Homo sapiens: one gene and its partners. The protein of the gene in region 1 purifies or fractionates together with the protein of each later gene. This does not show direct contact. Each region holds a gene or a part of one and is shown in the gene's direction. Other genes may lie near its edges. The genes, in order: ACOT13, TRNT1, NDUFAF2, TPD52, RAB31, TNN and ANXA11.

Evidence for each region.
Region 2: the proteins of ACOT13 (region 1) and TRNT1 fractionate together in Homo sapiens (co-fractionation; one large-scale study listed by BioGRID). This does not show direct contact.
Region 3: the proteins of ACOT13 (region 1) and NDUFAF2 fractionate together in Homo sapiens (co-fractionation; one large-scale study listed by BioGRID). This does not show direct contact.
Region 4: the proteins of ACOT13 (region 1) and TPD52 fractionate together in Homo sapiens (co-fractionation; one large-scale study listed by BioGRID). This does not show direct contact.
Region 5: the proteins of ACOT13 (region 1) and RAB31 fractionate together in Homo sapiens (co-fractionation; one large-scale study listed by BioGRID). This does not show direct contact.
Region 6: the proteins of ACOT13 (region 1) and TNN fractionate together in Homo sapiens (co-fractionation; one large-scale study listed by BioGRID). This does not show direct contact.
Region 7: the proteins of ACOT13 (region 1) and ANXA11 fractionate together in Homo sapiens (co-fractionation; one large-scale study listed by BioGRID). This does not show direct contact.

The regions. Positions count from the first base shown.
Region 1 is NC_000006.12:24,665,793-24,669,876, forward strand, and holds the start of ACOT13 (acyl-coenzyme A thioesterase 13), read left to right. Parts: upstream 1-1,284; 5' UTR 1,285-1,471; coding exon 1,472-1,552; intron 1,553-3,324; exon of another isoform or gene 3,325-4,084. Other genes in the region: TDP2 (tyrosyl-DNA phosphodiesterase 2), read right to left, coding at 734-819, 906-1,070. UniProt on the Homo sapiens protein: Catalyzes the hydrolysis of acyl-CoAs into free fatty acids and coenzyme A (CoASH), regulating their respective intracellular levels. Has acyl-CoA thioesterase activity towards medium (C12) and long-chain (C18) fatty acyl-CoA substrates.
Region 2 is NC_000003.12:3,125,529-3,129,739, forward strand, and holds the start of TRNT1 (CCA tRNA nucleotidyltransferase 1, mitochondrial), read left to right. Parts: upstream 1-1,411; 5' UTR 1,412-1,462; exon of another isoform or gene 1,463-2,490; intron 2,491-3,485; 5' UTR 3,486-3,512; coding exon 3,513-3,660; intron 3,661-4,211. UniProt on the Homo sapiens protein: Nucleotidyltransferase that catalyzes the addition and repair of the essential 3'-terminal CCA sequence in tRNAs, which is necessary for the attachment of amino acids to the 3' terminus of tRNA molecules, using CTP and ATP as substrates. tRNA 3'-terminal CCA addition is required both for tRNA processing and repair.
Region 3 is NC_000005.10:60,943,934-60,948,004, forward strand, and holds the start of NDUFAF2 (NADH dehydrogenase [ubiquinone] 1 alpha subcomplex assembly factor 2), read left to right. Parts: upstream 1-1,271; 5' UTR 1,272-1,322; coding exon 1,323-1,449; intron 1,450-4,071. Other genes in the region: ERCC8 (DNA excision repair protein ERCC-8), read right to left, coding at 999-1,075. UniProt on the Homo sapiens protein: Acts as a molecular chaperone for mitochondrial complex I assembly. Complex I functions in the transfer of electrons from NADH to the respiratory chain. The immediate electron acceptor for the enzyme is believed to be ubiquinone.
Region 4 is NC_000008.11:80,049,565-80,053,064, reverse strand, and holds part of TPD52 (tumor protein D52), read left to right. Parts: intron 1-389; exon of another isoform or gene 390-459; intron 460-1,436; coding exon 1,437-1,538; intron 1,539-1,794; exon of another isoform or gene 1,795-1,813; intron 1,814-2,593; coding exon 2,594-2,620; intron 2,621-3,500. Other genes in the region: TPD52-MRPS28 protein, read left to right, coding at 1,437-1,538.
Region 5 is NC_000018.10:9,809,301-9,812,800, forward strand, and holds part of RAB31 (ras-related protein Rab-31), read left to right. Parts: intron 1-3,500. UniProt on the Homo sapiens protein: The small GTPases Rab are key regulators of intracellular membrane trafficking, from the formation of transport vesicles to their fusion with membranes.
Region 6 is NC_000001.11:175,077,833-175,081,332, forward strand, and holds part of TNN (tenascin-N precursor), read left to right. Parts: intron 1-1,500; coding exon 1,501-1,875; intron 1,876-2,330; coding exon 2,331-2,594; intron 2,595-3,500. UniProt on the Homo sapiens protein: Extracellular matrix protein that seems to be a ligand for ITGA8:ITGB1, ITGAV:ITGB1 and ITGA4:ITGB1. Involved in neurite outgrowth and cell migration in hippocampal explants.
Region 7 is NC_000010.11:80,202,738-80,206,941, reverse strand, and holds the start of ANXA11 (annexin A11), read left to right. Parts: upstream 1-1,404; 5' UTR 1,405-1,599; intron 1,600-2,450; exon of another isoform or gene 2,451-2,703; intron 2,704-4,204. UniProt on the Homo sapiens protein: Binds specifically to calcyclin in a calcium-dependent manner. Required for midbody formation and completion of the terminal phase of cytokinesis.

The DNA.
Region 1 (4,084 bases):
AGGACATCAGGAAAAGCTTCCTAGAGATAAATCATGTCTCAGCTTGGGGCTTTAAGACAAATATTAGCAAGGAAGGGAAAAGAAAAAAATTCCAGGCACAGGTAATAAAGATCTTTACGAAGTTTCAAAGACAGGAGAAAATGACCCGTTGGAAAAAAGTAAAAGTTTGATAGGCCTGGAACCTGGAAAGGCAGGTTCTAAGTTATGGAGCCAAATAGTAGAGGGCCTTGTAAGGCAGCTACACTTTTTAAGTGCAGGAACTGGAGAGGGGCACTGAAATAACAGGAGTAGGTGTGCATTAAAAAAAAATAACAACAACAACAAACCTGTTATTCTGGCCGGTCAGCCTAGGGCCTAGAATAAATAAACAATACAGGAAGCAAGGAGACTTCCAAGTTGCCATTTTTCGATAGAAGGTTTAGCCTTCGTTCATTTGTTTCAAACCTCTCGCTTACTTATTTCCTTTCATTTGAGTTAAACATTACATTTCCATCTTTTCCTCCCTGGACCCCAAATCACGTTCGAAGCGACAGTCTGGTGCAGTGTTAGATCCGCTGCTGGGGCGCAACTCCGCGCAGCAGCAGCAACGCAAGCCCTGCTCCTCTGGCTACGCAGCTTGGAGATCTGCCTCAGCATCGTCCGCCCAGCTCCACGGCAGGTCCCAGGACGCGCAGGGCTACCTGGTATCAAACTGCCTCCGTGCGGACTGGCTCCCGCTCCCCTCATCACTTACTAGGTCTTGGGCTCAGAGATGGTTTCAGGTCGGCGTTCCAAGGCGCTCTCCTCCACCGGAGGCTCGAAGTAGGAGTTCAGAGCCCTCTGAAAAACAAAGGCACAAGGGATGAGGTTTGTGCGCTCCACCGACCTAGGTAATGGAGCCGGAAGCGAGGACAGCGAAAGCGTACTTCCATCTCCCAGTCGTTCTCGGCCAGGAAGCACTGAGCCACTGCGGCATCGCAGCTTGCGACCGAGGCAAACTCCACACACAGAAGTCGCCGCTTTTTCACCTCAGGCTCGCCCTCTTCCTCCGCCGCCTCCCTCCCGCCCTCCAGGCAACTCCCCAACTCCATCTTCCTGCCGCCTCTGCACCGCCCCTTTAAGCGGAACAGGAGGCCAACGCGCGGCTCTGCGCAGGCGCCTGTGTCATGGCGCTCCCGCATCAACCGCCCGGCGGGGAAATGCGCTGCTCTCGGAAAACTGGTGCAGCTGCGCCGCAAGGGAGCCGCCGGGGCGGTGGGTGCGAAGCGCGCATGCGCGCTTCGTCACAAGGGTGCGAGGAAAGTCAGTGAGCAAATCGCGGACCACCGGGGCTGCCAGCTCGCCTGACTCCCGGCCTCTTGCGCTCCTAGGGGCGGAGAAGGGTGCGGGCTCTTCGCCCTTTGTGTCCTCCTTCTTTCACTAACTTCTGGACTTTCCAGCTCTTCCGAAGTTCGTTCTTGCGCAAAGCCCAAAGGCTGGAAAACCGTCCACGATGACCAGCATGACTCAGTCTCTGCGGGAGGTGATAAAGGCCATGACCAAGGCTCGCAATTTTGAGAGAGTTTTGGGAAAGGTATGGGAAAGGTAGGGGAGAAGCCGTGGCTTCTAATGAAGGAAAAGAAAGCACCGTGCTTGGTGCCGTTGTGAGCTTTGAATAATTATCTCTTGTTAGGTTGTGTTCTAGTACGCCTGTAAATTCACCTTAGTAATAATGATTATTACTTTAATGGAGCCCCTAAATATGCTGGGTCGAACGCGTAAGTTCTCTATCTAAACATAGATAAGTATGGTTATGACTCGTGGAGACAGTTCCAAGGCTGGGAGGGACTTTGGAGTTTGATCCTTCAACCAACAAACGTCTGCATTGCTCCAGAGAAGAGTAAGAGAAACCTCTGCATTTAAGGCACATTACAGTCTAATTCTCTAGGCTCTAGAAGATTAGAAGATAAATAATTGCAATAAGGTACAAAAGCCAAGTGCTTGGTAGAGTGGTGAACGAAGGGAGAAGTTGTTCCTCTGTAGTGGTTTGGGAAATTTCTCAAAGGCACCCAACTCCTGAAGAAGTAAGTTAGCCCTTGGAGGAAGACTGAGTGCTTTTCTGAGACCAGCACTCACAAAGCCCGAAGGTGTTTGTTTGTTTTTGTTTTTTTAGGATGAGGTTTCGCCCTTGTTGCCTAGGCTGGAGTGCAATGGCGCGATCTCGGCTCACTGCAACCTCCACCTCCCTGGTTCAAACAATTCTCCTGCCTCACTCAGCCTCCCGAGTGGCTGGGATTACAGGCATGCGCCACCATGCCCAGCTAATATTGTACTTTTAGTAGAGACAGGGTTTCTCCATGTTGGTCAGGCTGCTCTCGAACTCCCGACCTCAGGTGAAACGCCTGCCTCCGCCTCCCAAAGTGCTGGGATTACTGGTGTGAGCCGCCACGCCAGACCTTGAAGGTGTTTGTTGTTGTTGTTGTTTTGAGATGGAGTCTTGCTCTGTTGCCCATGCGGGAGTGCAGTGACACGATCTCGGCTCACTGCAACCTCCGCCTCCTGGGTTCAAGTGATTCTCATGCCTCAGCCTTCCAAGTAGCTGGGATGATTACAGGCATGCGCCACCAAGCCTGGCTAATTCTTTATTTTTATTAGAGACAGGGTTTCATCATGTTGGTCAGGCTGGTCTCAAACTGCTGACCTCAGGTGATCCACCTGCCTTGGCCTCCCGAAGTGCTGGGATTACAGGCATGAGCCACCATGCCCCGCCAAAAGCAGGGATTTACTGAAAATGAAAGGACACTCCTGTGTTTGGGGTGTGGAGCAGCAGCTCAGGGGCCCTAATACCCCATTGAAGTCTCCTATTGGCCACTTGGTACTCATCTCATGTAAATGAAGTGGTGACCCACAATTGGCTGTGAAAAGCAACCAATGAAAGGCTAAAGTGAAGTTACAAAGTTGCCCTTATATGCAAACGAAGACGTGGCGTGCAATCAGATGGTGAAGTTACATAGTTACACTCCTATGGGAAGATCTGATTGGTTGCAGAAAGAATAATTTTTTTTAAGGGATAACTTACTTCTTAGCGTAATTTTGCTTTTTGCAACCAATCAGAGGTACTTTCAATTTCCCATCTGCCACACAGAAAAGGTGGGGGTTTGGAAAGGGAGAAGCCTCTGGTTCTTTTGTTACTTGGTGTGGGAAGTTAGGGTTTTACTTTCAATTTAGTTCTAGGAAGTCAGCGTGAAACAGCCCTAGGTTCCCTGCCTCCAGATCCGATTCTCCTGCCTCGCTTGTAAGAAAATCATGCTCCATAAGAAGCATTTATAACTAAACCTTGTGAACCCCAAAAATTTGAGACAGGTATCAGTTAATTTAGAAAGTTTATTTTGCCAAGGTTGAGGATGCGCACGCAGTGACACAGCCTCAGGAGGTCCTGACAACATGTGCCCAAGGTGGTCAGAGCACAGCTTGGTTTTATGCGTTTTAGGGACATATAAGACATCAATCAATATATGTAAAATGAACACTGGTTGGGTTCGGAAAGGCGGGACAACTTGAAGCGGGAAGGGGGCTTCCAGGTCACGGGTAGGTGGGAGACAAATGGTTGCATTCTTTTGAGTTTCTGATTTACCTTTCCTAAGGAGGCAGTCAGATACACATTTATCTCAATGAGCAGAGGGATGACTTTGAATAGAATGGGAGGCAAGTTTGTCTTAAGTAGTTCCTAGCTTGAATTTTCCTTTTAACTTAGTGATTTGGGGGCCCAAGATATTTTCCTTTACATTTGCCCCCTTTTCTTTTTTTTAAAAAAAATTTTTTTTTGGAGAAAGCATTTTAGAAGAAAAATGAGTCTTTGGTCCCAGATTTCATCTGATCGCTCATGCTAGGATGGTTTATTCCTAGACAGGTAAGTCCCAAGTTATTAGGAAAGCTAATTTTTAGAAGGCTGTGAACTCCCATGTCTTGTGAAGAGAAAATAGGGGGAGGAAGGGTGAAAAACAACAAACAAAAGAACAATCCTGGAAAATATACATAGGCCACGTTATTCTGAAGTCCATACATCAGTAGGCAGGTATGAAAGTGGCTTATGCGTGTAAATAGGTTGCTGTTATTTTCTTCTGAA
Region 2 (4,211 bases), on another chromosome or scaffold:
TATTCTAGGTGGGTACAGCAATGGAGGCTTTGGTCCAGTTTGTCTAGGGTCATGGTGGTGAGAAATAGCAGACAAGCCTGAAAGGATGATTTGGGGCTTTCCTTGCCCCAAAGAGAGAGAGAGACAGAAAATCCTTGCACCGGATGATATCAATGCTGTGCCTCTGAATGTCCATTTGGAAAGCCAGTCCTGTGCTTCCAAAAACAGGATATTCAACACCTTGAAGAGGTGTGGTAATTGCACATCTTACTTTTTACGTTTTAGGAAGTCTACAGAGAGTGGGGCTGAAAAGTTTGGGAAGAACAGGTAGGCATGTGGGGAGGGCAAAAGAACAGAAATAACATGCACAAGCATTTTTCTAGGAAAATTTTAGGGAAAGCTAAGTGATGTAAAGTTACACTTAAAAGACTACACATTTTCGGCCGGGCGCAGTGGCCGAATCCCGGCAAAAGTAATCCCGGCACTTTTGGGGGCCGAGGCCTGGGGAACACGAGGTCAGGAGTTCGAGACCAGTTGGCCAACACGGCAAAACCCCGTCTCTACTAAAAATTAGCCGGGCGTGGTGGCAGACACCTGTAATCCCAGCTACTCGGGAGGCCGAGGCAGGAGCATCGCTTGAAACCGGAAGGCGGAGGTTGCAGCGAGCCCAGATCGCGCCACCGCACTCCAGCCTGGGCGACAAGAGCGAAACTCCGTCTCAAAAACAAAACAAAACAAAAACTACACATTTTCGCACTTTAAGGGCTCAACGGCTGTATTCCCACTCCTTTGCCACTCTCTTTGCTCTTTTCCGCTCTAGAAAGAATTAATGAACTGGATCAAATCTAAGTTCTCCACGTTACAGATGGGAAGCCTCCGGGCCAAGGAGGCCAATGGTTACACAAACCAGGTAAGAAAATAAAATATGCCCAGTAAGTTCATAGGACCGGCGGGCTTAGATTTCGAATGCGCGTGACTCTGTCAACTGTGGACTTAACCCTATGCAGAGATTAGAGGAGAGAATAGTCAAACACGGATAAGTTAACATTTACCGAACAGTCCGTCCTACCCTGGGGTAGGTTTTATTAACAGTCTCGTTTTGCAAAGGAAGACAGCTGCCAGTTGTCTCAGATCGCACGGGCATGCCGCGCAGATGGGCTTCTGAGCAGCTCAGGGCCAGCCAGAGGTCTGGCGAGAAGGGCGTAATTAAACGAACCCGCGCCGGTTTCCTCAGGGCCCCCCGGGGCTCCGCTTCGCCCCAGCGGGCCTCGGCGGGGCTGGGAAACCGGCTGAGGTTCGCCTCACGGTGGGGAGGAGCGACGGGAGGCGGAAGCCCTTCGGTCCGGGCCCCGCCCCCGCACTCGCCCTCGCCCCGCCGCGACTTCCCATTCGCCGCCAACCCATGTGCGTTGGTGACGTCACCGCGTTCACCAGCCCGGAAGTGCGCGTGGCGGCGGTGGCGGCTGCGGCAACAGCGGGGCCGGTAAGCGGGCGCGCGCCGCTCAGAGGGGCAGAGTTGGTGGCGTGAGTTGCTGCCCCTTCCTTCCTGCTGTGGGCCAGAGGCGCCACCGCGCCCGGTCCTCGAGGAAGACGGGAGCGGGACGTGGCGAGAGGCCTCCTCAGCAGTGGGCAAAATAGCCCCGACGCGGAGGTCGTGTCCCCGCCACGTTTCCGGCGACCGCAGGCGCGGATTCCTTGGCTTCCCTCAGCACTTTCCCCTCCGCGCGGACGGCCCCGAGACGCTTTTTCACTGGGCCTTGTCGCCAGCACCCGGCGTGGGGGGTGAGACGCGCCTTTTCAGGGCTGGGGTTCCCCAGAGCGTTTTCCTAAGTCGAGGCGGAGGTGCGAGGAAACTGAGTGGGTCTTTCCGCCCCACGTGGCCTGCCGGGAAGCGCGGCTCCTCCACCCGCTTCCGTGGAATGGAATGGTTTTTCTCTGCAGGTTTACACCGGGGTCACTCGAGAGCTGCTGCGGCCTCCTTATGGGCAGGACCCCCGTATGGGGAGAACGAGGATGTGATATGTAGAAGGGAAGGCCGCGGTGTGCCAGAAATCAGAGGAGATTGCAAGATGGCAGGAAAAGAATCAGGAAAATGGGGGCAGCAAAACTAAATTCATGGGAAAATACAATGTCTAGGAGCTATCCCAGGGTCGTGAATCCTCGAGTGCAGGTGGGGAAGTAGGGTGATACCCACCTGTGACCATGACAAGTTTTGGAGACCAGAAACTCGGTTAGAGTTTCTAGAACCCCGCATCCCTCTCATACTGCCTGAAGCCCTGCTCTGGGGAGAGTGTCATCACAGTACCATGTGGCATGCGAGTGTCGTGGTAATGCTCCCCGACCAAACCACCAAACCGAGGGTTGGGCTGCTTATTCTCGCTGCCCAATAATGAGATGCAGATAAACTAGGAAAGAAAGGAGTTTATTTCTGTAACCAGGTACGGGGCGAAGGCGTGGAAAATATCCCAGACCGACTCAGAATTACAGAGCTTTCCAGAGCTTATATACCTTGTAAGTTGTATGTTTATGTGTAAGTGTGCATTGATCTAAAGATACAAGTGATTAACTTCTTACCCATAAGATCTGAGTCCTGAAGACCTTCCTCTGGAGCCTGAGTAAATTTACTTAATCTAAATGGGTCCAGGTGCTGGGGTGATTACCCTTATATTCTCTCCTGCTAAATCATGGAGGTTTGGGGAGTTCCCTCAGACCCCTAATAAACTTGTTCGTGGAGGCCTGGGGAGTTTCCTCAGATCCCCAGTAAAACTTGTTTAATTCTAAACGGGTCCTGTTAAGAATTCCTTTGTGGCCGGGCTCAGTGGCTCACGCCTGTAATCCCAGCACTTTGGGAGGCTGAGGCGGGCAGATCACTTGAGGTCAGGAGTTCGAGAGCAGTCTGGCCAACGTGGTAAAACCCCGTCTCTACCCAGAAGTATAAAAAATTAGCCGGATGTGGTGGTGTGCGCCTGTAATCCCTGCTACTTGGGATGCTGAGGCAGGAGAATCTCTTGAACCCAGGAGGCAGGGGTTGCAGTGAGCTGAGATCGCGCCACTGCACTCCCGCCTGAGCGACAGAGCGAGACTCCATCTCAAAAAAAAAAAAAAAAAAAAAAAGAATTCCTTTGTTATTTTATCATGCTTCAAGGTCCAGGAAAGGCCTAGGCAAAACTCTTGGGGGGCTTTTGTTACATTCTAGCCTTGTTTAAGGGCACTGGCTGGCTCTTTCAGCTTTTAATATGTAACTCAACCAGTCAGTCAGTACTGAAACAGTTATGGAGGCCTGCGCTAGTGAGACCCCGCCTGCCACAGTAAGTGCTTCTGGAGAACAAAACCAGGTAGATACATAGACCTAGTCGTAATCCCTCAAACTGACACCGTTTTCAGTTTTTTCATCTGAACAAGAGATGAATTTCTGAGTTGATAAACTTGAAATGTGTCCCCCTTTGTTTTCCTTCACTTACCTTCACTTTTAATTTCATTGGTATGCCTGTGTATTTGCCTTGTAGATGTGTAGTTGGTGACTGCCTCTCCAGATGCTGAGGTGCCTGTATCATTGGCACAGGCCAGTGCTGAACCGTAGGTGGAGTAGGCTGTGCCTTCCGAAGCAGTATCTATTCACAATGAAGTTGCAGTCTCCCGAATTCCAGTCACTTTTCACAGAAGGACTGAAGAGTCTGACAGGTGAGAGATTAGGATACCTTTTCTTGATTGGAAACCTATATAAATGGAGAAGTAGAGGGTTAACTTTTTAAGCCAGCATTCGGATATTTTCATTGTTGTTTTAATTATTTTTATTAAAAAACGTAAGTAGAGGGTCTCTTTGTGTTGCCCAGGCTGGTCTCAAAACTCCTGGGCTCACTCCTTGGCCTCCCAAAATGCTGGGATTACAGGTGTGAGCCACGGTGCCCAATGTGCACGTTTTCATTGTTGGAAGAAAGGCTTGGCTGGGTGTACCCAGCCTGTAATCTCTTGGGGAGGCCAAGGTAGGAGGATTGTTTGAGCCCAGGAGTTTGAGGCTGCAGTGAGCTATGATCATGCCACTCTAGCCTGGGCAACAGAGTGAGACCCTGTCTCAAAAAAAGAGAAAGGAATATTAAAAGAGAAAGGCTTACATATGGCTGATCCAAAAATATAGCTAAATCACTGGAAAAGGCAAGAAGTTGACTGCAGTAAAAAGCATGGCTTTTCTGTATGCTGTGCTAAGTACTTGCCATTCATTACAGGACTGGTGC
Region 3 (4,071 bases), on another chromosome or scaffold:
ATAAAATGTTGGAAACTAATATTTAAATTTCTCCAGAACGCAGAACTCATAAGCAACTGTGTTCTCCAAGTAAATATCTTCACAGGTTCCTCAATTAATGTGGGCAAAATTAAAAGTACAACTTGCTTCTTCCCTTTGGAAAACCCTCTCTCAGAGTATATTACCAACATTCAACTTCTTATACAAGGCATAGATCTGGGAATCATTATTCATTCTTCTCTTTTTGTCATTCACGTATCCACTCAATTTCCATGGCCTGTTGATTCTATTTCTCAGACGTTGTTCAAATCTCTCCACTATCTTTATTCTACTTGGCAACTCTGTGGCCCAGGCTTCCAACAACTCTCTCCCGGACAAGTGTAATCACAACAGTTACCTAACTTGGCTCCCACTCTTGTTCTCAGTTGCAACCCATTCTCCAAGCAGAAAACAAAATGCAATAGCTGTTACCTTATTCTCATCTTCACACCTCTACTCAAGTACACAAGGCTCTTCCTCATCTAGTTTCTGTCTACTTCATCTCTTGTCAATGGTCCCTACCCCAATTCTCCGCTCTAGTCATTCTGAACTTTGTTCAATTCCTGGCCTGTGTCCTCTGCCTTTAATAGGCTGCCTGGCACACTGTAGGAATTCACTAAATATGCAGACTGAATGAATGAACGAGTCCGTGGAGGGCAGTTATTCTTTGGAGTAACTTAAGAGAGAAGGAATACAGTACAACGAAGTATTCTTATTTAGGTTTATAGTGTCTTCACCTGAGCCCGCGGGGGAACCCCCCCCCCACCCCCGGGGAACCCCCCCCACCCCCGCCGCCCCCCGCCTGCAAGTTGTTACCAGTAAATAAAAGGGATCCTATTTTAGCAAGCCACACAGCATTAGAGGGCAAATAATAGTTTGGTGGCAGGAGAGCGATGAGACGGGAAAGTGTGGGGCAAAGCTTACAGTCATTGGTCCAGATTCTAACTGGCCTGTTAGCCAAAAAGTAAGGTTTTCTTTACCTCCGTGTTGACTCTGCTCTCCGAAGGCGAAGAGGGTCCTCCAAACCCGTTTGGCGTGCGGACAAAAACCCCAGCATATCGTGTCCTCACACCGGCTGGAGCACTGGACGTCGCCATGACAGAGCTCAGGGGCGGGACTGGAACAGCAGAGTCTCCCATTGGTCAGTCGGTGATATATCCGGCCAATGGTGAGCGCCGTTACTAGAAGGGCTCCAGGATGGAGGCCGACCTGACTTCTCCGCCTCGGTGGGCTGGGTCGGCGGCTGGAGCATTACCCCTACTGCGGGTCCCGCTGCTGGCAGCGCTGGAAACTGGGTGGACGGCATGGGTTGGTCTCAGGATTTGTTCCGCGCCTTGTGGAGATCGCTGTCAAGGGAAGTGAAGGAGCACGTGGGCACGGACCAATTCGGGAACAAATACTACTACATCCCGCAGTACAAGAACTGGAGAGGTGAGGTGGCGGCGTGGGCAGCGATTGCGTGGTCAGTGATTGCGAGGTCAGTAAAGGAGGGAAAAGTGAGAGCCCCTAGTCAACTAACGCATCATGCGACACTTAGGGTGTCACCGGAGAGAATTTCCCGAGTTCGTTCTCCCCTGTCGACCCCTTCACTCTGGCATCGGAGCCCTACCCGGCCCGGCTCTGGGCGCCTTGGCCCGGCCTCGTGCGTCCGCGGTCCCTACTACCCAGCGCCTTCCCCCGGCGTGCCCCGGGCTGCTTGCGCTGTTAAGGCGCACCACCACTTTCCTCCCAGCCACGCCTGTAGAGGAGCCTCAGTTTTAGCCCTGGACTGGCGACGGAGGCAGGGAAAAGTCCACGGAAATCTTTCACCAAAGGGGCTAGAAGGGCCAGGGGAGGGGTTTTTCGTACGCTGTTCCCCGCCTTGTGACCCAGAGCTGAGTGGTGTAATTGAAGAGGAGTATCTTCAGCGCCTCGGCTGTCTTCTTTCTTGGTGTTTACCCTTTTCGGTGGCACCCTGGCTCCGGCGCTGGCCCCATGCGCCTTCCTTACTACCAAGACTTGTCAGAAGTAGGTCCATATCCCCACAAGGCTCGCTGATTCCTTTCTCGGGAGTTGACATTCCAAGACCCCGTTGAGCTCAATTTAAGAAACGTGGCAATAATCATGGTGTTACTGTGTAGGATTCGTGCCAAGTAGTTGAGCGGGTTGTTTGGGGAGTAAGGAGGCGTTGCTGTCCATTGAAATCACACTGTGTAGCCGCCGTCGTAACCTCTTCTGTGTTGTTCCATCGCCGCATGCAGAAAATGTCAGGTTTTGGGCGAAGAGGCGTGGGTTAGAATCTCAGCTTTGACACCTGATAGCTCGGGAATCACGGAAAAAGTACTTGTCCTCTCCAAGTCTCAACATCCTCACTTGAAAGTTAGAGATAATATAAGATCAGCAATGTTGAGAAGCACTAAGACCTTTCCAAGATTATGTGCCATTCATTTCCCACACATATAAAATGTATTCTGTGATTTATCACTCAATTAATTTATTTTTGCCTGGCCTTTTTCTGTAACTTATTTTAATATTTAGACTTGTTTCCCTAATGAGCTCCTCTGTCAGGCAGGGAATATGTCTCACAAAAAAAGAAAAAAGCCTGCAAAGAACATAGCATGGTGTTAAGTATTTCTTGACAGGTTGCAAGCAGAGAGATGTTTCTTTTCCATAAGTTGTCAGTAAAATTAAAAATATGCAAACTGTCAGACTGAGTTTTTTTAAATTGAAATATAATTTACATACAGTAACATTCACCCTTTATGGTGTACAGTTTTATTGTTTTTGACAAATGAGTAGAGTAACCTCACTGGATTCAAGTAATAGAATAATTCCATCACCATCAGAATTTCCTCCAACTCCTTAGTAGTTCATTCCCACACCCTTTGGCAACTACTGATGTGTTTTATGGGCCTATAGTTTTGTCTTTTCTAGAATATCATATAAATGGAATTATACAGGATTTAGACTTTTGAGTCTGGCTTGCTTCACATAGCATAATGTAGCTGAGATTCATCCATGTGTCAGTAGTTGTTCCTTTTTATTGCTCAGTAGTATTCCATTGTATGGGTTTGCCAGTTTATCTGTTCACAAGCTGAAGGACATTAGGATGTTTCCAGTTTCTGTGATTGTGACAAAAGCTCTACAAACATTCCCATACAGGATTTGTGTGAACGTAAGTTTTCATATCTCTTGGGTAAATATCTAGTAGTGGGATTACTAAGTTGTGTGATCAATGTGTGTTTAACTTTATGAGAAACTACCAAACTGTTTTTCAAAGTGGCTGTACCATTTTGTATTCCTGCCAGCAATGCATTAAAATTCTAGTTGTTTCCACACCCTCACCAGCACTTAGTATTATCTGATTTTTGGGTGTGTTTTTATTTTTATTTTAGCCATTTTGATAGGTATATAGTGGTATCTCATTGTGATTTTAAGTTTCATTTTCCTAATGCCTGAGGATGTTGACAGTCTTTTCATGTGCTTATTTACTATCTACAGATCTTCGGTGAAGTATTGTTCAAACCTTTTGCCCATTAAAAAATCCATTTATGGCTGGGTCCGGTGGCTCATGCCTGTAATCCCACCACTTTGGGAGGCCGAGGTGGGTGGATCACCTGAGATCAGGAGTTCCAGACCAGCCTGGCCAACATGGTGAAACCCCATCTCTACTAAAAATACAAAAATTAGCTGGGCATGGTGGCACGCGCCTGTAATCCCAGCTAGTCGGGAGGCTAAGGCAGGAAAATCACTTGAACCTGGGAGGCGGATGTTGCAGTGAGCCGAGATCACACCACTGCACTCCAGCCTGGGTGACAGAGTGAGACTCCACCTCAAAAAAAAAAAAAAAAAACAAGCCCAAAAAACAACAAACAAATATATTTATACCAGTTTTTGTATCATTCATTTATATAGAGATACAATACCATTAAAGTTTCAAATTAACAGTCATGTCTATTCTACAATAACATGAATATTTTATTTTTACATATTCTCACTAATTTGTATATTTTCTTACATAATTGTAATTGCATTTTGAGAGTTTTATTGAAGTATAATTGACAAAAAAAATTG
Region 4 (3,500 bases), on another chromosome or scaffold:
AGTTGGAGAAATAAAATTCAAATCCCATAAGTGTTATGTATTGACTTGCCACAAATATGTACATTTTGTCCTTTAGTACTCAGAATAACCCAGTAAGAATGGGTGGCAAGATAACCCTGGATAAGGAAACAGGCTCAGACAAATTAAGTTTTCATGTCACAAACCTCTCAAAATGTGGAGTGGGAATTCAAACTCAGGTCTGGAGCCAGTCTTTATTATTATTATTAATGTATTTTTTTAACCTTGTTGTGTAGGTATCAAAAGATTCTCAGGTCGTAGTCTCAGATATATGCTCTTGGCAGAGGTCAATCCCTTAGGCTTTTTGTCTTTTTGACCACACATGCTATGATATAGCATTATCATAATGCAGTTTTGTTTCCCGGCACAAGGAGGAGCAAGCTTCTAGCAGCAGAAACCGAACTGCTCTGTCTTCTGTATTGAGAGCCATCTGCAGAGCTGGTGAGCACAGAAGTTGTTTTACAATTTAACTATCAGAAGTGAGGCCAACTGCATTTAACATGACAGTACTTGAGTCCCCAGTCTTTTGGTCCATTTTCTACCCATCTAAGTTGGCAGTGGGAAAACATACAGGAAACTATTTTTTCAACAGTATTACCATGAACCATGTTTTTTTATTGGTATTTGATCTTGACAGGGTAAGTAAAAATGCCTGAGCATTCTTTCCCATAATGTGGGAATTGTTTTGGTAGGTACGATATTATTTTGTTTTTTGTTGTTGTTGTTGTCATCATTTTTTTGTTTTTGCTTTTCTCTTCTCTAATCTCCAGGTAGCTGGGAAGGAGGTGGTAAATTATAGCTTTGCGTGATAGCAGATACCACACTAGAATAATTTTAAGCATTGCATATTTTACATACTTTGTTGAAAGTCCATCATGTCCGTATTTGGTAGCTCTCTAAAGACATGCAAAAATTTTTAGAAAGTATGCCCATAAAATGTATTTGGATAATAAAATACAAATGGGTCCTACTTACGCCAGCTACTAATTGCTTCTGGCCCTTTTTTAGGAAATCAAGTTGACAAAGGCATCTGAGGAATTTGATTTCATTTTTGTTTTGTTTGGATTATGTGAGAAAAGAACAATAGGTATGAGTTCTTTCAGGCCTTTGCTTATTTTCATCTTGGTTTGATGATTATTTTTAGCCCTTACCTTGACTTCTTTGGCCCTGCCTTTATAGGACTCTGTCTTTCTGGCTGGACTAGGGCACTGCAGAAGATTGTGCCTGAGCTTAGGGTTGAGCATACGAAGATGTGGTGATGCCGCTCTGCTGGTTATGAAGGATTTTAGAAGTTCTGAAAAATGTTTTCTCTTTTTGAGAGTTCTCCAGCAGGTGGTGACCACTGCACTTGAAACAATTGATATTAGAAAAGATGAGCTGACCCTTCTTTTGCTCTGTGTGTTTATAATTTAATATAGTTACAAGAAGACATCTGAAACCTTATCCCAGGCTGGACAGAAGGCCTCAGCTGCTTTTTCGTCTGTTGGCTCAGTCATCACCAAAAAGCTGGAAGATGTAAAGTATGTCCTCATTTTTCCTTGCTCATTAAGTAGCTGACGCAAATTAAAATGTTATTGTTGTTGCATCTGTTTCCTGACCTTGGCTCTAGTTGATGCTAGCTACTCCTGTTAGAGTGAGGGAGGGCACTCCTTCAAACCAGTACCTGGAAGGCTCATCTAAGGTCTTCTAGGCCTAGCATTCTAACATCAAATGATCATCTGATGATCATTTAAGGTTGTTGAAAAATTCTGGTTGTGAACTTCTTTGTCTTTTTAGTTCTTCATGATCATGCAGGGTAAGTATGTCTTTGGTTGCAAATTTGTGATTGTGGGCAGAGCCTGGTGTGTTACTAAGGATGACTACAGGAGCACTGAAGTGCACGCTTCGATTCAGATTTGGCTTCACGTTCTATATGTGACATTTTATATCATGGTGTGATTACAACATGCTCATTTGTGCACTGTTTTATTCTAACTGGTAAGCTGTAACTATGTTCATGCTTAGGCCAAAATCTTGATTTTGAGTTGTTGCTTTTTTTTTTTTTCATTTAGATTAGTCTGCAGAGTTTTCCTTGCCATTTTTATAAAACCACTTCACAGTGCTTTTGTGCCCCCCCTTCACTCATGTGGATTAGGATAGTGATGAAAATGACAAATGTGGTTTAAGTCAGCTGTGCTTCTGTTGGCATGCAAGATTTGTGTTTAAAAAAAAATGCTCAGATTGCATGGCTTCGTGTTTTGCATTTGTGGGGAAAGTGTATATCTTACAACCAGAATTTCTTGGTTGAATAGATTTGGTCAATTTATGTGTTATACTTTACACCAAAAGAACAAATTCCTCGCTCATTATATTTAGACTGTCATTGTCTAAGCATAATGTAATAAATATAGCTTTCTTGAACTCTTTTGACAATTATGTATGTATCTATTAGGTGTTCATTTTCTCTATGCTGACTGAATTGTGTAGCAGTTTAGAGCCCAGGGAAAACATTATATGTTTAAAACTTAGGTTATTTAATTGTTTTAGATTTATCAGAACTTCTTTCTTTTTTAATGCTTACTCTGGCTTCTTACAGATTGCAAGCCTTTTCACATTCCTTTAGGTAAGGAGAGTTTGAACCATCACTGCAGTCCAGCAGTTGTATAAGAAAAGTGTGCTGAGATTAGATTACCATGCTACGTTGGATGATCGTGTTTGTCCAGTACATAATTTTCTTGCGTTTAGAGTATCTTTTTCTCTAGTGCATTCCTAATTTCAAGGGAGGGTTTCTTGTATACCATGGGTAGTTGATAAATTAAAAGAAGTATTTGACACTGTGGTTCAAGGGATATGGAAATGATTTTGACATTTCTTTTTTACTTTTTTCTTTGGTAAAAAGAAGCAGCTTTACCATGGCATGCAAAATTCCTCCCTTTTAATGTCTGACTTTGTTTGTTTTGATGCTTTTGTTTCTTTGGTACTTTTGTAAGGATGTTGGAATTCTTCACCTGGGTTTCATTACACAATTGTAACAGACTGCATATGTACTGCCTCCTGATGTTAGTCTTCCATCTTCTATTGGTTACTCTACCTTTTTTTTTGTTGTTGTGGTAAAATATACATAAGGTAAAATCTGCCACTACTCTGCACTTTTTAATACTTGTTTTACTAGCTTATAGTTTTTATGATTTTATTCTTTCTTTACACTTGTTATATTCTTTATGTACACAAGGCAACTTCATGGTTTGAAAAAGGGAAAAGAATATTAAGCTAAAAAAAGCACATTAAAAAGATGTTAGCTCAAACCATGCCTTATAGAAAGAGACTTTGTGATGTTGAGGAAACCTTTCTCTTTCCCAGGCAGACTCTTTGATTATCTGATTAGTTGTTGGAGGAAACTAAGGTGGAGGAAAGTCTTTAGAGTATAAGCAGGAAGGATGATATAGTAGTCTTCATCTCTGTTCCTATGGATGCAGATTATTTTCTTAAGCAATCACTCATGG
Region 5 (3,500 bases), on another chromosome or scaffold:
TCCAGTTCTCTTCACTTCCCCAAAGGTGATTCTTGATCACGCGAGGTCCCTAGATGTTAATAAATACTACTTGAAAAAAAGATTTTAAAAATGAATGGGAATTCTGAACTAAAACCAAAATAAATAGGTTTCTTTACTGTAGAAAATTTTCAGAGCCTTTAATGCACTAATTATGCTTTGTAAACCTCCAGGGAAGCATGTGGTGTTTCTCAAACTTATTTGGCCAGGAAACCTTTTTTCCTGGCCACCTCCACGTGGCCTGGTGTTCTGCAGAAGACCCTCAGGAAAATACCACACTAGGCTGTCTTGCCTCATGTGCCATTTAATATTTTACAAACACCTAAGTCTAATTGCTGCTGGATATTCCATCATATGGCTAAGCCAAAATTTATGTGTCCATTCTTTAATTGTTAGACATTGAGATTGCTTACAGTTTTTCAGCATCATTGATAATTTTCAAAGGAATTCTGGTTACTTTGTAACCATCTCTGATTATTCCCTTAAGAGGTGGAATTGTCAAATCAAAGTATCTGAACATTTGCAAGATTCTTGAAACACATTGTCCAGCTGCTTTCCAGAAAGGTCATGCTCGTTTATTTTCTACCAGCTGCGGGCAGGGTTAATGTCCATCTGCGAAAGCTGAGCAGCCGGAGAAGCTCCAAGAGCCTGAAGAAGGCCGTTCCCGTCTCCCCTGCCACAGGGACCTCCAGCAATTAGAAAACAAATAATCACACACACTAAGGACATAAACAGCTATTTCTTTTGAGGAGACACACTGGGTTTTCACAGTTCCCTGTGCCGTTTCTAAATAATTGAATGACATCTGAAAAATTTCTCAACATTTTAATTTGGTCTTCTAGATGTTTTGCTGGGTAGTCAGGGAAGAAGGGATTTTGAATTGGCATCTGTTGTGCTAATTTTCAAATAACCTTTCAAGGTAAGATGTAAAAATAAAGCTTTATCAGCCTCTTGTGACTGTGAACTTTATTTCCAGAAGAATCTTTTTATGTGAGCATTCCATCAGTCTTATTTCTGACCCCACAGGAATTGAATTATGTCATGTTGAGGACTGAGGCTGATTGTGGTGCTTTTGCTTTCTATTTGTAAGGGGGAAAAGCATAAACATTGTAGACTAGAAGTGATTTATCTTTTTGTCCTCCACCAAGATCACCCTTTGGTCAATGCATTATTGGGTTTTGGAACTGAGACGTGAACTTCTAACTCATTAAAACCCTCAAGTCCCCAGCAATAAAGTCATTTAAGTGGCTTCACCAACAGAGATTTATTTCAAAGCGATTCCATTTGGAGGAAGGAAAGAATGAGTAATGCATTATATACCAAGATCGCTTCAATAATTCATGAGACCTCCATGCCAGTGACCGTTTTAGATTCAGTTCATGGTGTTTTAGCCTAAAGTGAACTCTCTCTGTCTTAGAAGACACCCGCAGTTTGCTCCTCTTTGAGCTTGAGTCCATGAATATCTTTACTTTTGGGAAATAAAGTTTGTATTGACTGCTACTTTGTGCGTTTACATGAACCACTCTTATATGGAGGCTATTTTGAAAAAAATGGGCATTTTGTATAATTGGGGTAAAAGGATACTTAATCTGCGGTCCTTACCCTTTGAAAAGTAGGAATGTTTAAAAAAAATTATTGCTTTTTCCTTCCTTTGGGCAGGAATTCTGATTTTGTTTTTTAAGTGTAAGGAGTAGATTGCCAAATGGTGGGTTAAAAATAGATTTATGGATGCCTAATAATTATGCCAAACACAGTGTTGGGCCGTCAGTGAGTACGGAAAGGCATGCATGGCAAATGTCGCTGTCCCCAAGTGCGTTCTGGAATGGGGGCAGTGGGTGGCGCCGGCCCTTCAGCATCTTCGGCCACCGCACAGTTCAGCTGTGAACTCCTTGGTTCACCCTGAGCTTCGTCCAACCTTCTCCCTTTTCTGAAACCCGCAGAGGCTCCAGAGTCCTTTCTCTTCAGGATGGAGACCTGCATGGAGGGACTGGAGGCAGGGAGGGTGGCCCACTTCCTTTCCACACTATTGTGAGTGCCTCACCAGCATTCCTCAGTGCAGTAACAGGGAAACCTGGGGACTCAGATTTCCAAATACCATCATTTCAGTTTGGCAAGTATTGATCCAATGATGAGTATCGTGGGAAAGAAAATAATAAGTTAGGGTTTTGTCGCTTGCCAGAAAAGCTTCAGGATCCACTTCTCCTTCCTCCCTGCTCTCTCCCCACTGCCCAATAAAAACAGCTGCTTTGTTCAAAACTTAAAAACCATATTATTTAAAACTCATTGTAAAAATTTATGCTATACAGATGCTTGTAAGGAAAATGTAAAAATCGCTGGAAATCCCACCTGTTAAGATTTAGAGGAACCTCGTGTTATTCCTGCTCACAGAGACATACTCCCACATACATTTTACCCTACATTATATTATCATATAATGATAAATTAACCACATAATAAATGATAAATTATATGCTATATGTGCTGTTTTGAGACTATTTCTCATCTAACAGTATGTCAAAGATCTCTTTTCCTATAAATAAAAATCATCATTTTAATGGCTATAGAATATCATTACATACATATATGTATTAATCTGTGCACAAAATAACATAGACTGGGTGGCTTAAACAACACACGTTGATTTCTTACCATTTGGGAGCTGGGAAGTCCAAGATCAAGGTGCTGGCAGATTCAGTGCCTGTGAGGGCCCCCTTTCTGGTATGCAGATACTCGCCTTCTTGCTGTATCTCACATAGGGGCAGGGCAGGGAGAGAAGGGAGATCTGGTCTCCTTCTCTCCTTATAAGGGACTAATCCCATCTGTGACCTCATCTAACCCTAATTACCTCCTAAGGGCCCCACCTCCTAATACCGCCACGTTGGGAGTTAGGGTTTCAATACATGGATTTTAGGGGAGACACAAACATTCAGTTCATAACATTATACCATGAGTCAATTCCCATTTACTCCCATAAACAGCGCAGGGATGTGTCTTCCTGCGTGTGATGGTCACTCCAGTATATATTCCTCTAAGTGGAATTGCTGGGTCAAATGGGACACACATTTCAACTTTTGATTATATTACCAACAGTTGCTTTGAAAGAAGATATTCAGCACATTCCATGTAGAGTATGTGTGCCTCCCTTCCCAAACCCACACCAACACTGAACAGCACAAATCTTTTTACAATTTAATAATTTATAAGTGTCTCCTTATTTTTATTGGTGTTCTTCCGATTCTAATTGAACATGTTTTAAAATATTTGTTGGCAATGTATATGTCTTCTGTGATTTACCTTTATATATATCTTTGTCCATTTTTCTATTAAGCCATCTTTTTCTTATTGACTTTCAAAACCCCTCCAGGATACTATTTTTTTTTTTTTTTTTTTTTTTTTTGAGATAAAGTCTCACTCTGTCTTCCAGGCAGGAGTGCAGTTTTGCAATCTTAGCTCACTGCAACCTCTGCCTCCCGGGTTCTAGC
Region 6 (3,500 bases), on another chromosome or scaffold:
CTCACCACCTGGTATTCATTCAACAAACATTTGATGAGCACCTATTATGTGCCAGGGTTTCCACTAGCCTCATGAGCACTTTGTGACTCTGGTGTGCTCCTACTTCTCATTCTGGGTTTTCTCTAGGGGGCCCATCCCTGCTATTTATTCATTTATTCACTGGTACTAGCTCCAGGGGGCATCTGGAAGCTGAGCAGGGAGGGACCAGCAGCTCTTGCAGAGAGTCTAGACTCCTGGCCTATTGCTTCCAGATGGGAATGCTTCCAGGAGCCGTCATACCTGTGAATCAAAGCGCTACTCAGAGAGGAAGCAATGGGATACACAGGAAAGATAGGGCCTTGGAGCTAGACAAGACAGGTTACAAATCCCAGTTCTACCACTTTTTAGCTGTGTGACTTTGGGTAAATCCCTTATGTTTCCTCAACTGTCCAACAGGGATGATTCTATCAGCTAGTATAGTTCTGAGAACTAGAGATGATGTGTAGAAGATTCCTGGCCCTTAGAGGAATTTACAAATCAGTAAATTATAATTATTTTATTAGTAAAAATTACAATTATAATTGTAAAATAATTACAATTTAATTTTACAAATAATGAAGGTTCTCCCCCAACGCAACCCCGTCACTTTTAAACATAAACTGCCCAGGCTGATCCAATGATAATGAACAGTACTTTGGCATAGGATTTCATGCCTGAAGGAATTGCTATGGTAAAGAGCACCTTAACCATCAGATCCAGATACAGAACTCGGCACCAGGGACACTGCCATGAATAACCAGCATGGACTTGCTTCTGAGGAGCTCCCACTTTGGAAGCGTTTTTAGGAAGGAAAGAAGGTGTTCTGAAAAGCAGAAGCTGGGCCACAGAGGAGACTGCACTAACCAGTCTGCCCTCCAGCTGCCTCTTGCTGTGTAGGGTCAGAGAGGGGAGCCTGGTTAAATCCCTTCTCCACTGTACCCATAGTTGAGAGTAGGCTATTTTGTAGCTTCTGCAGTTCCGTTTTTTCCAGACTTCAATCTGGGCTCATTTCACAAGGTCCCAGCCTTGCTAGTTCCAGCAAACTCCAACCTCCCTGGATCTCACTTTCCCCCCAGGAGTCCTGCCCTGCAGTGTCAGCTGGCCAGGGTGGAGCATTTAAGGCCCCTCCATAGGAAGGCACTAAATAATGACCACCAGGTAGAGAGGAAGGAACCGGGGAATTCACACGGGAAGGGAAAGGAAAGAAGGGTGGGTCCTGCAGCCTTTTCAGGCAGAGAAAGAAGGAGACGTTTGCAGATGTCACAGATTAGAAAGCCTGGCCCAGGCTGGAAAGGGCCAACACCTTTTCTCCCTTGTGGAGCTCCACCATCCTCCAAAAAATAGCCGTGCAAGACCCAGAAATCACCAGACCCTTAAGAGTGGGGCTAATGATTTCTGGGTCTTGCATGGCTGATCTCAGAGGAAGGAGATCCCCACGCACAACCCTTCAACCCAACCTACTGTTTCTCCTCTCCCTCCCAGATCTAAGCCGCCACTGCAGCGGCCACGGGACCTTCTCCCTGGAGACCTGCAGCTGCCACTGCGAAGAGGGCAGGGAGGGCCCCGCCTGCGAGCGGCTGGCCTGCCCCGGGGCGTGCAGCGGCCACGGGCGTTGCGTGGACGGGCGCTGCCTGTGCCATGAGCCCTACGTGGGTGCCGACTGCGGCTACCCGGCCTGCCCTGAGAACTGCAGCGGACACGGCGAGTGCGTGCGCGGCGTGTGCCAGTGCCACGAAGACTTCATGTCGGAGGACTGCAGCGAGAAGCGCTGTCCCGGCGACTGCAGCGGCCACGGCTTCTGTGACACGGGCGAGTGCTACTGCGAGGAGGGCTTCACAGGCCTGGACTGTGCCCAGGGTGAGAGCGGAGATGTGCCCTCGGGCCGCCGGACTCTTCTTTCCAATGCACCATTTAACCCTCAATTACACGTTGTCATCTTTGGGGGTCTCTTCCTTTAGCCTACGCCAGATTGCTGAGTCCCAACCCCAGAGTTTCTGATTCTGCGATGGGGCCTAAGAATTTGCATTTCTAACAAGTTCCCAGGTGATGCTGATGCTGCTGGTTAGAGGCCCTAACCTTGAGGACCACTGGTCTTGTGATCTAATGGCTGTGTGTGAGTGTGTGTGTGTGTGTGGTGAGGGGGTCAGTATTAATTACCTGTCGTTCGGATAATAACTTCTAGGGGTCGGGAATGGCGCCTTACACAGGTCTGCATCCTGCACACCCACCCTTATAGTGCTCAGGGAATACTCACTGGGTCTGGATCGCCTCCCTTGCTCACCCTCTCTGCCCTGTTCCTGTTCTGCCTGCAGTGGTCACCCCACAGGGCCTGCAGCTGCTCAAGAACACGGAGGATTCTCTGCTGGTGAGCTGGGAGCCCTCCAGCCAGGTGGATCACTACCTCCTCAGCTACTACCCCCTGGGGAAGGAGCTCTCTGGGAAGCAGATCCAAGTGCCCAAGGAGCAGCACAGCTATGAGATTCTTGGTTTGCTGCCTGGAACCAAGTACATAGTCACCCTGCGTAACGTCAAGAATGAAGTTTCTAGCAGCCCACAGCATCTACTTGCCACCACAGGTGAGGAAGCCACCTGATGCCCCAGGGTTCCCAGGAGAGGCCCCATTCTAAATGGTTTCTTTCATTAAACACCTGTAGGCAGTTGCCTTGATTAGGGGTTTGAAAAACACACCTGCCACAATCCTAGGTTCTGAAGAGTCCCAGTTCTCTCTCTTCTTTCCTTGCTCCCTGATTACTGGGTTCTCCAAGCCCATGAAGACCTGCTAGATGGGGGCTCATGGGGTCTTCTCTGTCCCTGAGATTATTTGGGTCTGCACCTTCTCATAAGCAGTCAAAGTGTAGACATGAATCCCCAGTCTCTTACTGAACCCCCAAAGCCATTCAGAAAGTTCAGATAGGTATGGGTGAGAGGCTGCTGAAGCCACCTGTATCAGTTAGATTCATCTTCGTGGGAAAGACAGGACACAAATGGGGTAAATGAAATTTCAAAGTTTAACTAACAGATTGTTCACAAAGGTGTGGGTAGGGGTTGGATGGTGACACACTAAGACCTGCATCAATAAGGATACTCTCCTGCCTGAAGGGGCAAGGGATAGATGTTGGTACTTGGACCCAGAGAGAGCTGTAGAAAAGAGCTGCCTGGTAGGGTTGTTTTGGTAGAGGGATGCAGGCAGTCCACCGTGTCTCCAAAGAATTCTGTCTCCTGCCCTCTGATCTGCTGGTGATTCCTGCTAGCTGAACCTGGAAGCCAAAGGGTCAGGTAAACAGGCAGACTCAATTCACAGAGATCACAGCCTGGGGTACAGAACAAGATGGAGGATGGTGGAGGCTTGATCTGGAGAAACAGAATCTCCTGTGCACCAGCAAATGCCACCAAAATGTTTAGAAGGATTAGCATCACTGCTTACTCTTTAAACATTCTTGTCTCCTCGTGAACATTCTTAAAGCAGCTTAGATCTTCAAGGA
Region 7 (4,204 bases), on another chromosome or scaffold:
TTGAACCCGGGAGGCGGAAGTTGCAGTGAGCCGAGATCGCGCCACTGCACTCCAGCCTGGGCGACAGATCGAGACTCCGTCTCAGAAAAAAAAAAAAAAAAAGGAAAATCGAACCAGCAGCTTGTTTGTAACAGCCAAACATAGGCAACAACCTAAATGTCCTTCAGTAAGGAGCTAGGTAATGAAGAATGGTGAAGCGCACGATGGCGCGCAGTGTGCAGTGGATGGGAAGAACCAGGTCTGTTCAGGAGCACTTGTATGGAAAGACCCTCCAAGATATAGTGAGTAAAAAAACATGTTGCAGAAAAGTACTGCAATATCGTTTTGTAAACAATACGTTTATGTAAACACACACACACAGTGTTAAAGAGAGATATTTGGAAGGACACACCTAAGAGTGGGCTGGGGGAGTGGAGGGAAGAGTGAATCTCAATTTTTACTCATTTTTTGAATTTTTTATTTTTAGTTTTTTAGAGACTGGGTCTCACTATGTTGCCCAGGCTAGTCTGGAAGCCCTGTCTTCAAGCCATCCTCCTGTCTTGGCCTTCCAAAGTGCTGAGATTACAGGCGTCAGCCACCACTCATTAAAAAAAAAAATTGTATACCTACCATATATGCATATATTACCTGGGTGACCTTTTAAAAATATGCTTTATTTTTAGAACATCTTTAGATTTACAGAAAAAGTGTGAATACAGGGAATTCTCATAAACCCGGGCTTTTCCTATTATTAACATCTTAAGTCATTTTTATATCTCCGTGGGTTCCTCTTGGCTGTGACAGTGTCCTAGACTTTCCTTGTTTTTGATGACCTTGCTAGTTTTCAGGAGTACTGGTCATGTATATGGCAAGGGCCTCAATTGATTTGTGATGTTTTCCTCATGATTACAGTGGGGTTAGGTGTTCTTGGGAGGAAGACCACAAGCGGTGCATGCAATCAGTATGATTTACCCCTGTCGAGGTCACCTTGACGGCTGGGTGGTTTGTCAGGTTTCTCCACGATAGTCACTGACCGCTCCCTTCCTCACATACTGTGCGTGACCTTCCCCCCTCCACCACCACCGAGTGTTGCTATAAAGGAAATGCGTTTGACCTTTTCAGTGTAAAAAGTTTTCTCGACCTTAAAGAGAGTCACTAACCGACGCACACGGGGCTGGAGAGGACTTAGGAAATGCCCACCCCTGCAGGAGGGCGAATGCGGCTCTGCGCGGCACTGGGCGCCGCAGGGGTTAGGGGCGGCAGAGGGACCTCCGGAGCCCGAGACTTCCTGGAGCAGCTCCGCAGCCGGAAGGCTGCTGCTCCTCGCGGGCCCGCCGTGCCCAGTCCTCATCTTGGGGGCGGGGCCGCGCTCAGGCCCCGCCCCTCCCTTGCACTGCCTCTGGCACCTGGGGCAGCCGCGCCCGCGGAGTTTTCCGCCCGGCGCTGACGGCTGCTGCGCCCGCGGCTCCCCAGTGCCCCGAGTGCCCCGCGGGCCCCGCGAGCGGGAGTGGGACCCAGCCCCTAGGCAGAACCCAGGCGCCGCGCCCGGGACGCCCGCGGAGAGAGCCACTCCCGCCCACGTCCCATTTCGCCCCTCGCGTCCGGAGTCCCCGTGGCCAGGTGAGTGAGGGTCCCGAGCCGGCTGGGGGCCTGGGACCAGGCGGCGGCAGTGCACCGCGGCGCCGCGGGTGAGGCCCGGGGCTGCCTGGCGCCCAGCCCAGCGCGGCCCTGCGGCTTCCTGGTTGCACTACAGGCGTGGGGGTGGGGGGCAGGGGAGGGCGTCGGCGGGTCGCGGGCGGGCCGTGTCGGCCTGGCAGCCCCCTAGATCAGCCTCGGCGTCTGGGGCTGCTCCCTCATGTGTGGTCGGGGTGCACTCGCCGTCCCCCCGGGCTCAGGGGTCGGGGTCTCAGTCTGGGCCTGGGTAGGGCCAGGGGCCGTGACCCTGGGCGCAGGAGGCAACGGGTGGCGGGAGGGGTGCCGGAGGCCCGGCCCCGCAGCCCTGCGGAGCCCTCCAGGGTGCGCGCGCCCTTCTAGGCGAGGCTTGGGGAGATTAAGCAGAGAAGGCTATCTTCAGGAACTTTCCTCCGAAACTGGGAGCACGCACATTCCTGGGAGCTGCTACCATTGCAGTTTATTTGTAAGGAACTCTCCCCAGTGTTTGAGGGAATGCGGGAGCCATCCCAGGTGCTGTGCGTGCCTTCGCCCCTTCCCCAACCTTGATCCCCAGTTTCAGGAAGGGATTCCTGGACTTGTATCTCCCATGGGTGCAGGCCAGGCCCTTAAGACTTAGGTAAAATGGTCTGTTGGTTTAAAGGAGACACGCGAAGTTTGTTACCTAGAGACTTTGGAGGGGAAAAGTTAAGCCAGCCAGTGCTAGCCCAAGCTGGAAACAGTCAGCCCGGGGCATTTCTGTCTCTGCCCTCCAATCCTTGACCTCTCTGTAGAGATTCGGCGTTTGTGGTAGCTCTCCCCTCTGTTCTCTGCGCTGGGCATGGAGTGGAGCTGTGAGGCCGAGCCCCTGCCCTGCCCTGCCCTGCCCTGCCCACGCAACAGGGACTAGGTTTGCAGGGCAGGGCCTGGTATGCTCACCCTTCACTGGCTCTCATTGCTTTCCTCATTCCTTTTATGCGGCAGTCAATTGTTGGGGATTCCAGGGGATTAACAGGGCCCCTTTCCTCAAGGCATTCTTTGTGCTGCAAGGTGTTCCCTGATAAGAGAGGCCAGGTGAGGTGCCAGGGCAGTTTGTTGCCCTGGCATTGGGTGCCCACTACTTCAGGCTCCTGCATACCTTGCTATCTTTTCTTTGACTATTGTCTGTGCTTTGGTTTTTCATCTGTAAAATGGGGGTAATAGTAATCCCTGCCTCACAGGCTTGTGAGATTCAGTGCATTCATTTATTTAATAACAATACAGAGCTCAGGTACGGACCAGTCAGAACAGGTGGTGACTGCTGCACCACACTTGTGTATCCCAGATGGGTGTCACCCACATTAGCCATAAAGTGTGTGAGGCAGGCCTGGGTCATAAATAATCAGGTGTAAGGGTCAATAAATAGTAGCAGTGGAAGGTTCAGCTAAAGTTGAAATGCACTTCTCCTGAACCGTCTTTCTGGCTTAGCTCATGCTAAGCTCATGCTCTCTGTCTTACTGGAATGCCCTCCCTCCCCTGTCTGGCCTAGCATTCTCCACCCTCCTGGGAGCCATCCGGGTGCCTGCTCCCAGCAGGAGGGACGGGATATGCTCTGAGCTCACTCAGCCCTTCTGGCACTGACTCGGTTCTCATCTCTCGCCTTGCATAGTATTTGTGTGGCGGTGTGGCTTATCGCTGCCCTGTCCTCTGACTCTGGAGGGTGGGGGCTGTTTCTGACTTACCTCTTGGTGGCAGCACTCAGGATGGGCCTTGCCTAATGTAGGTGCTCAGAAAATTAGTTGTCGTTAGTTGAACAACAGAGACAGCACAGGGAAGTGGTTTCCCTGTGGTTAAAATATAGGACCTTGAAGGCTGGGTTTGGATAGAGAAACGTGGGGAGGGTGAGATGGAGATGAATTGGGACTAAGAGGTGGGAGTGGAAGCCTCACCTGACGCCTTTATGCATGATACTATAGAAAGGGCCCACCCTGGGTGGATGTGTCTAGAAGGCCAGGATCGATTAGTGATGCCTAGTTCACGTGATTGGGGAGGTGATGTGTGGCTTGGGATGACAGGAGTGGGAGTTGAGACAGAATAGGTTAGTGTGGGTTCTTCTTGGAAATTGTAGAATAGAGAAAAGAAACTGGTGTGGGCAGGAGCTGAATGTGGAACCAAAATGCATGCTGAATGCTGGAACATCAGAGGTCCTGGGACCTTTCTGGTGCACCCCCTCCTTCCTCCTGGATTCACCCCTCTTCTTCTGCTGTCTTTTTTTTTTTTTTTTTTTTTGAGACAGATTTCGCCCTGTCACCCAGGCTGGAGTGCAGTGATGCAATCTTGGCTCACTGCAACCTCCGCTCCCTGGGTTTAAATGATTCTCCTCCCTTGGCCTCCCGAGTAGCTGGGATTACAGGCATGCACCACCATGCCCGGCTAATTTTTGTATTTTTAGTAGAGACGGGGCTTCACCATGTTGGCCAGGCTGGTCTTGAACTCCTGACCTCAGGTGATCTGCCTGCCTCAGTCTCCCAAAGTGCTGGGATTACAGGCATGAGTCACCGTGCCCGGCCTCCTCTCTCTTCTTAGCCACTGTTTT